Homo sapiens: one gene and its partner. The protein of the gene in region 1 purifies or fractionates together with the protein of each later gene. This does not show direct contact. Each region holds a gene or a part of one and is shown on either strand. Other genes may lie near its edges. The genes, in order: NPAS2 and EDRF1.

Region 1 (3,417 bases):
AGATGTTGGCTGGGTGTGGTGGCTCACACCTGTAATCCTAGCACTTTGGCAGGCCGAGGTGGGCTGATCACTTGAGGTCAGGAGTTCGAGACCAGCCTGGCCAATATGGCGAAACCCCGTCTCTACTAAAAACACAAAAATTAGTGGGGTATGGTGGTGGGTGCCTGTAATCCCAGTTACTCGGGAGGCTGAGGCAGGAGAATCACTTGAACCAGGAGGCACAGTTTACATTGAGCCGAGATTGTGCCACTGCACTCCAGGCTGGGCAAGAGAGAGAGAGACGCTGTCTCAAAACAAACAAACAAAAAAAAGATTGAGATGTTTCCAGAAACTTTTTCTGTTTTGTTTTGCTGTCACTTCTACAGTAAACCATTTGTTTTTCGGGCACAAACTTTAACACAAAGATCAGAACCTGATAGGCCGATGCACATATTGCAGCTCAAAAAGCTGATGGCTTGCTTTCATCTTTTCCGTATCTTTGATTATCCTTCAAACATCTTGAAATTAGAAAAAAAGAATTACTGGTGAAAAGATGTATGCAGGGATGTATAACAAGGGACAGAGGAAATTGTACAAATTTGTTAATTTATTACAAAATTTTCACTCACAGAAAAACACAAGAAAACTTTTATACTTTTATATTTGGGAAAAGGAACTGGTATCTCAGATACAAAATAATTTACACATAAGCCATACAATTTTATTTTATATAGAAATAGGTCATTATTACAACAGCTGTACAATTCACTACGCTTCATCTTATAATTACATAAAATCTTTTCTTTAGAAACATCTCAACATAACAAAACATACAAAAAAAGCAAAGTGCATTTTGAAAAGGAAAATCCAATTCTCAGTATTCTCATGAAGATATGTAGAAAGATGCAGCATTCTCACTCAAAGGGCCAGCATGTGGCAGGGTCTCCTTGGGGACTGCAGTCCCCCAGGCCTGTCTGGCTTGTAAAACCTCTCCCCTCACAGACTTGGAGTTCTCAGCAGAATTCTGGAATGTTGGCTGGCATGATTGTGCTTTGCTTTGAGTCCACCTTTGTAGTTGCAATCAATGAAGTAAACAGGAAATAGTCCAGTGTTTTATTTAGGGGCTAAAAAATCACCACCAGCATGGCCTGGGGTGAAAAGCCTCATCCCATTAGGGTTTAGGCCAGAAAGTGTGAATCTGTAGCTTGGTTAATAACAACCAGCTTCTCTGATTGGTGGGCTGCTGTTGTTACTGTGGTCTCTAAATGAAGCCATGAGACCTTATTATTTTTTTAAAAAAAACAGAAAGTGCCTAAGTTATTTCCTCTGTGTAGCTGTGCAAATTAAAACAAAAACAACCATTTAAAAATAATGAAAAATAATCTCTTTATTCTCTCTCTCCAACAGATCTCTGACCCAGTCCTTCTCCAATACAAAGGAAAGACGATCAAGAGCGTGAAGGCCAGCTAGCGCAGATGGGCGGGCCGCAGGTGGCTAGAGCAACCGGTGTACTCTCGGGGGATGCAGCGAGATGCGCCATCTCTGACGGCAAACCGACCGACGATGCCTACACGGGGCACCTGGTTCCTGTCCAGTATGGCTATAGAGTGTGCCCAAGAACCTCGGAGGCAAGAGAAACACGGTCAGTATTCCTGATCATTTCCACTGCAGCAAGCGCTGCACTCCAGAGATGGTTACCATCCAGGAGTTCTGAAACGTATGCAGTGTGCACAAAAGCCAGGGGTTTAGTTCAGACTCCTCTCCCCATCTCCTGTGGCCACCCCCCTCATCCATTGGTTAAAGCTGATTGTGTCCCGACTTCAGTGCCGGGGCATTATCGGGGCGGCTGCTGGAGGCCTGACGACTCAGACAGACTGCTGACCCTTCGGGGAGGACGTAGGGGCTGGGGCTGTGCTGGGGGTGGTTGGGGGTAGCCCAGGGTCCCTGGCTGTTGTGAGTAGGTGGAGAGAAGTAGCGAGTCCTGCTGCTCACTGTGCAAAGAGGTTGGTGCCTGTACCTAGAAAAAAAAGAACAAAGGGCTTCAGAGGTGGTTCTGATGTCCGCTCCTCAACTGTCTTACAAGGCAGTGCGGGGCATGCTGCAGGTTGAGTTAGACTACAGGGCTGTCTTTCTTGGGGGGTCATGTGGGGAGAGGTGGCTCTGGCAAGACCTGGGGGTGTGGTGGGGATGGGGACTAAGGGAACCTTAGGGTGAATTCTGAAGCTAAGTTCTCCGCCAATAGTGGGGGCACCTTCTGGCCCAATCGACTGAGGCCTGTGGCTATGGCTATGGGGAATGGTTTCGTAAACACGTGCACATGATCTACATGTAGCCACAATGTTTTTGGATGATGGAACCTGAGGCCACATGCAGGTAGTTGACAGGGCAGAATCCAAACACACATACAGTTTGTACACTTTTCACTGCTGGTCCCTGATCCCGTAGCTACCTCCAGATTCACCAGCACCTACTAGGAGCATCTTGATTGGAAGTTTAGAAGCTTTGACTGACCAAAGCCTGACTTTGGAAACTTCAGTCTTATCACCCACTATTCCCTTCCATGAAATCTCCTCCTGCAAGTAACCCAGCACCCCCCTGCTCTCAAAGCTGCCCAGGCACAGCTGCCCTGAACTTTTGCTCAGGCTGTCTGGCTGGAACACTGTCCCTTTATCTTCACCCTCACCCACATTTCGGGCATTTCCTGGACATCAGACTCTGCAGTGGGTGCCTTCTGAGCCCTCCCTCTCCTCAAGTCCCTTCCTCCACAAAGGCTTCCCCACCACAGCACTCCCACTGTTCCCAAATCCGAGCCTGACTGCATTCTGTGCTAACCCACCTCTCTGCACCCCACCCCAAGCCCCTAAGGGCAGTGAGTGGGCCGAAGCGCTCTCTGTATTCATAGCCTGCATCTTGTCTGCAACAGGTGCATGCAAACTTGTCTGTTGCTCATTTCCCATCCAAAATCACTTCTGGGTCTCGAGAACTGACAAGATCTGCAAAGCCAAAGTCTGAGTTGACTCCCACTATGTGTGGGGTCAGGGAGATCTGAAAATTATAGCACAGATGGCTTAGCGGCACTGGAATTAAATTACGTTCTAGAACTTCAAGGACAGCTATCTTCATCACTATCTACAGTACTCAAGAGGTCTCAGCTACTGCTCATTCTCCATGGCTTTGCAGGTGCAGGTGGGGCTGCAGGCCAGGGAGGAAGCCCCCCCAGGACAGGGAAGGGCTGGGGTGAAGAGGGGCACCCTGCACATGGGTGAGGGAAGGCCAGGCCCTTCTGCAGCTTGGCAGACGCAGACGTGTGGCTCCCACGTGAACCTGCGGACCAGTGGCTCTCACCCTCCCTGCTTTTGACATACTTGGCACTTGCTTGAAGTAATTTTTGCCTTCGAAGTAGTGACCACATGTAAATGAGCTCCAAATTTTCCTGGC
Region 2 (3,786 bases), on another chromosome or scaffold:
TGAGCAGAGTATAGAATTCTGGGTTAACAGTCCTTTTCATTCAGTACTTTAAAGATGTCACTCCATTGTCTCTGGCCTGTGTGTTTTCTGACCAGAAGCCAGCTGTGTTTCCTACTTTTGTTCATCTGTTAGAAATGCATCTTCCTTGCCTGTAGGCGCCTCACCCCCCAGCAGTTTAACTATGATAGGCTTGAGTGTGTCGTGATGGCTTTTACCTCTGGCTTCAGCATTTTTCTTTCTTCTGTTCCATTCTCTCTCCTCCTCTGTAGCCCGTTATGCCTATGTTAGACTGTTTGATGTTATTCCACAGCTCTTGGATATTCCGTTCTGGTTTTTTTGATGCCATTTTTTCCTTTTTGTGATTTTGTTTGGGTAATTTCTGTTGAACTGTCTTCAAGTTCATGGATTCCTTACTTGGTTTTGTGTCATCTACAGTTGAACTTTTTGAAGGCATTCTTTGTCTCTGTTACAATGTTCCTTATTTCTAGCAATTGCCCTGGGTTCATTCTTACAGTTCCAGCTCTCTGCTGAAATCACCAATCTGACCTTGCGTGGCATCCATCTTGTCCATTAGTGTCTTGAACATACTAATTATAGTCCTTTTAAATTCCCTATGAGATAGTTCCAACATCTGTGTCATAATTAGCTGGTTCTGTTGATTCTTTGTCTCTTGGAAGTATGTTGTTTTTTCCTTGCCTTCCGTATATCTCTTGTTTGTTGAAAACTGGACACCTTATGTATGATAGTAGAGACCAAGAGAAATATTTTTTTTTTGCCTGGAATTTTTTGTACTTTCCCCCTGCTACGGCTTTAGTGTGGGAAGTGGAATTCATTTTTCTAGCCTGGAGTTGAGCTGTGGTTGAGATTTTTTTATTGCGATGGTTACCTTCCATGTACCACAGGCTTCAAGTTTTCCTAGCAGTCCTCGTGTGTAGGGTGGAACAGATCTGCAGAAGGTGATTCTTAGTGTCTTCTCTACCTTCAGCTCTAGGTCTTTCTTTTGTTTTGCACCTTAGAGAGGGTCTGTCTTTATACTCTCACAGTTCTTCCAGCCATATTCCACTGTCACTGGTCCTTCGGTGCCTTTTCGCCTGTTTGGGAGGGAGCAGGGAGTTAGCAAGGACTCCATAGTTGTTTAAGCCTCAGTCCAGGCAGACACTCGTGTCCCTGAGTCTCAGGACTGTGGCCTTCCCACTGCTCCTGCACCCCCACCTAACCCTTCAGAGTGTTTTTTTCTGTTCCCTTCCCCTCTCTTCATTGACTTTAACCAACGCCCTAAGGTTGGCAGGGTTCATTGTCTTCCCCCACCCCCATTGAGTCTTTTGTTTCATAGAGGAGAAGGGTCCAGGTGGGGTTGCTGGTCCCTCCCATAGCAGCTGCTGTTACCCTGTCATAGGTCTACAGCAGGAGGGTCAGTCTGTCAGGATTCTCACTGGTCTTTTATGTGGGCATTTGGTGAGGTCCTTGGAGAAAAGCCAGTAAGAAGATGTGAACCCCCTGACTCCACAGAGGCCCTATACTTTCTCACCAGCCTCACTGGGCCCCCACCAACCCATTCACTATTTTAGCTAAATGCTTACTGGCATCTGGCTGCATCTGCCCCAGGTAAGGAAGGACTGTCCTTTCTCTCCCTGTATCAGCCTGTCTCTCCTTAGATTGCAGGCTAGTTGGCTGCCCCACCTCTCTCATGGATTTAAGAAGAGCCATGACCTTGTAGTTTGCCCTGCTTGAGCCAGAGACTTTTTCCGGTTCTGCACCATGAATAGAAACTTCTTTCAATAATTGCCTTTGAACTAAGTGCCATGGCTTACACCTGTGATCCCAGCTATTTGGGAGACTGAGGCAGGAGAATTACATGAACCCAGGAGTTCAAGGCCACAGCAAGCTCTGATGGCACCACTGCACTCCAGCCTGGGAGACAGAGCAAAACCCAACTCTTTAAAAAAAAGAAAAAAAATGGCTTTTGAATAATTCTCTATAGTCTAAGGAGAGCTTTTATTTGGTTGTGTGTGTTTTTATTTTTATTTATTTTTTTTTTTGAGACAGAGTCTCGCTCTGTCGCCCACGCTGGAGTGCAGTGGCGCAATCTCGGCTCACTGCAAGCTCCGCCTCCCAGGTTCACGCCATTCTCCTGCCTCAGCCTCCCGAGTAGCTGGGACTACAGGCATCCGCCACCACACCCGGCTAATTTTTTGTATTTTTAGTAGAGACGGGGTTTCACCGTGTTAGCCAGGATGGTCTCGATCTTCTGACCTCATGATCCACCTGCCTCAGCCTCCCAAAGTGCCGGGATTACAAGTGTGAGCCACCGCGCCTGGCCTTATTTGGTTGTTAATCCACAGTGTCTGCACCATATCCTGGTTGTGGTACACAGCAGCGGGTGTTGATACACTCACTGTAATTTAGCAGAGACATCCATCTTTTTGAAGAGCCCTAAGGCGGAGCAGATACTGCATATGGTAACAAGGCTTGGAAAGAATTCCTGCCTTTTTCTAACAGCAGTGGGTAAAGTTTTTAAATTTGTATTGGTTTCCACAAGATGGTAATATAAATATATGATACATGAGAAAAAGTGATTCATTGATTTTTCACAAGTCAATCATTTGAGTAATTGGTAATAGGTAATAGTTTCAGTTTTATCTTTTATAACTGTAACAGTCATATGTATGACCTAAGTAATTTTTATTTTAATGGAAGGTTTTCTAAGCTTCTGTTTATTTAGGTTATTAATATTCTGCTGAAAACTATTGTAATCTAAAGTTTTCATGCATGACACATACAATCTTATTTAGCTAATTTATATTGATTTTAAGGTTTATTAAACTTAAATGTGATAATGTGTTAATAAAATAAACACTTTGACAAGTTTCAAAACAAAAATATTAATTACTAAGTCAGTGACTATTTCATTTTTCACTGATGTGCAAATGAAAACATCTATAATTTTATTGTTAAGAGGAAAATACCCTCTGCCACAGGCTTAGTTGTTTCACAGTGAATACATGAACATTCTCTTTTGCAATATAGAGAGAAATCAGAATGAGACCTAAAAGAAAGAAAATGCAATCAGCCCTCTGTATCCAAGGATTCTGCATCCACAGATTCAACCAACCACAGACTGAAAATATTAAATAAATAAAAAATAATACAAATTTAAAAAGCAATATAGTATAACAACTATTTATATGGCATTGACATTGTATTAGGTATTATAAGTCATCTAGAGTTGATTTAAAGTATATAGGAAGATGTACACAGCCTAAATGCAAATGCTGCACCATTTTATATCAGGGACTCCAGCCTCCTCAAATTTTAGTTTCCTGGAGGGTCCTGGAACCAATCCTCCACAGATACTGAGAGGCCATGTTAAACAAATTTTTGTTTTATTTTTTGACTACTGCTTTTTCCACTTCATGCCCTCTGGCAAAAAAATAAACAAGGCTTAATAATTAAAATCTTAAGTTTATTAGATTCCTATAGAATTAGAGTGAAAGATGCATTTTACTTGTTTAAAAAAAATTTTTGTTTTCATTTTCAGGTGATGCAGGCATTTCATCATCATATGACAACTGCATTGGCATTGACCTGCTAGAAATTCTAGCAGTAGCAGTTTGTTAGGCCAAAGGTTTTCTCTTTTCTCTTTTTGAATTTAGAATTTACTCTTCTACTGTATTTTAATATTCATTGCTTTCACAGATCCAGGCCTCTTAACATTTTGGTGGCTTTGCGGTTTAATATAATGAAATACCATAAAAAGTAGAAGTAATCTCTGAAGATTCAGGGAGC

What was found.
Region 2: the proteins of NPAS2 (region 1) and EDRF1 purify together in Homo sapiens (affinity purification with mass spectrometry; one large-scale study listed by BioGRID and IntAct). This does not show direct contact.

What each region holds. Positions count from the first base shown.
Region 1 is NC_000002.12:100,993,979-100,997,395, reverse strand, and holds the end of NPAS2 (neuronal PAS domain-containing protein 2), read right to left. Parts: intron 2,973-3,417; exon of another isoform or gene 2,816-2,972; intron 1,997-2,815; coding exon 1,814-1,996; 3' UTR 1,601-1,813; coding exon of another isoform or gene 1,580-1,600; 3' UTR 567-1,579; downstream 1-566. UniProt on the Homo sapiens protein: Transcriptional activator which forms a core component of the circadian clock.
Region 2 is NC_000010.11:125,757,690-125,761,475, forward strand, and holds part of EDRF1 (erythroid differentiation-related factor 1), read left to right. Parts: intron 1-3,786. UniProt on the Homo sapiens protein: Transcription factor involved in erythroid differentiation. Involved in transcriptional activation of the globin gene.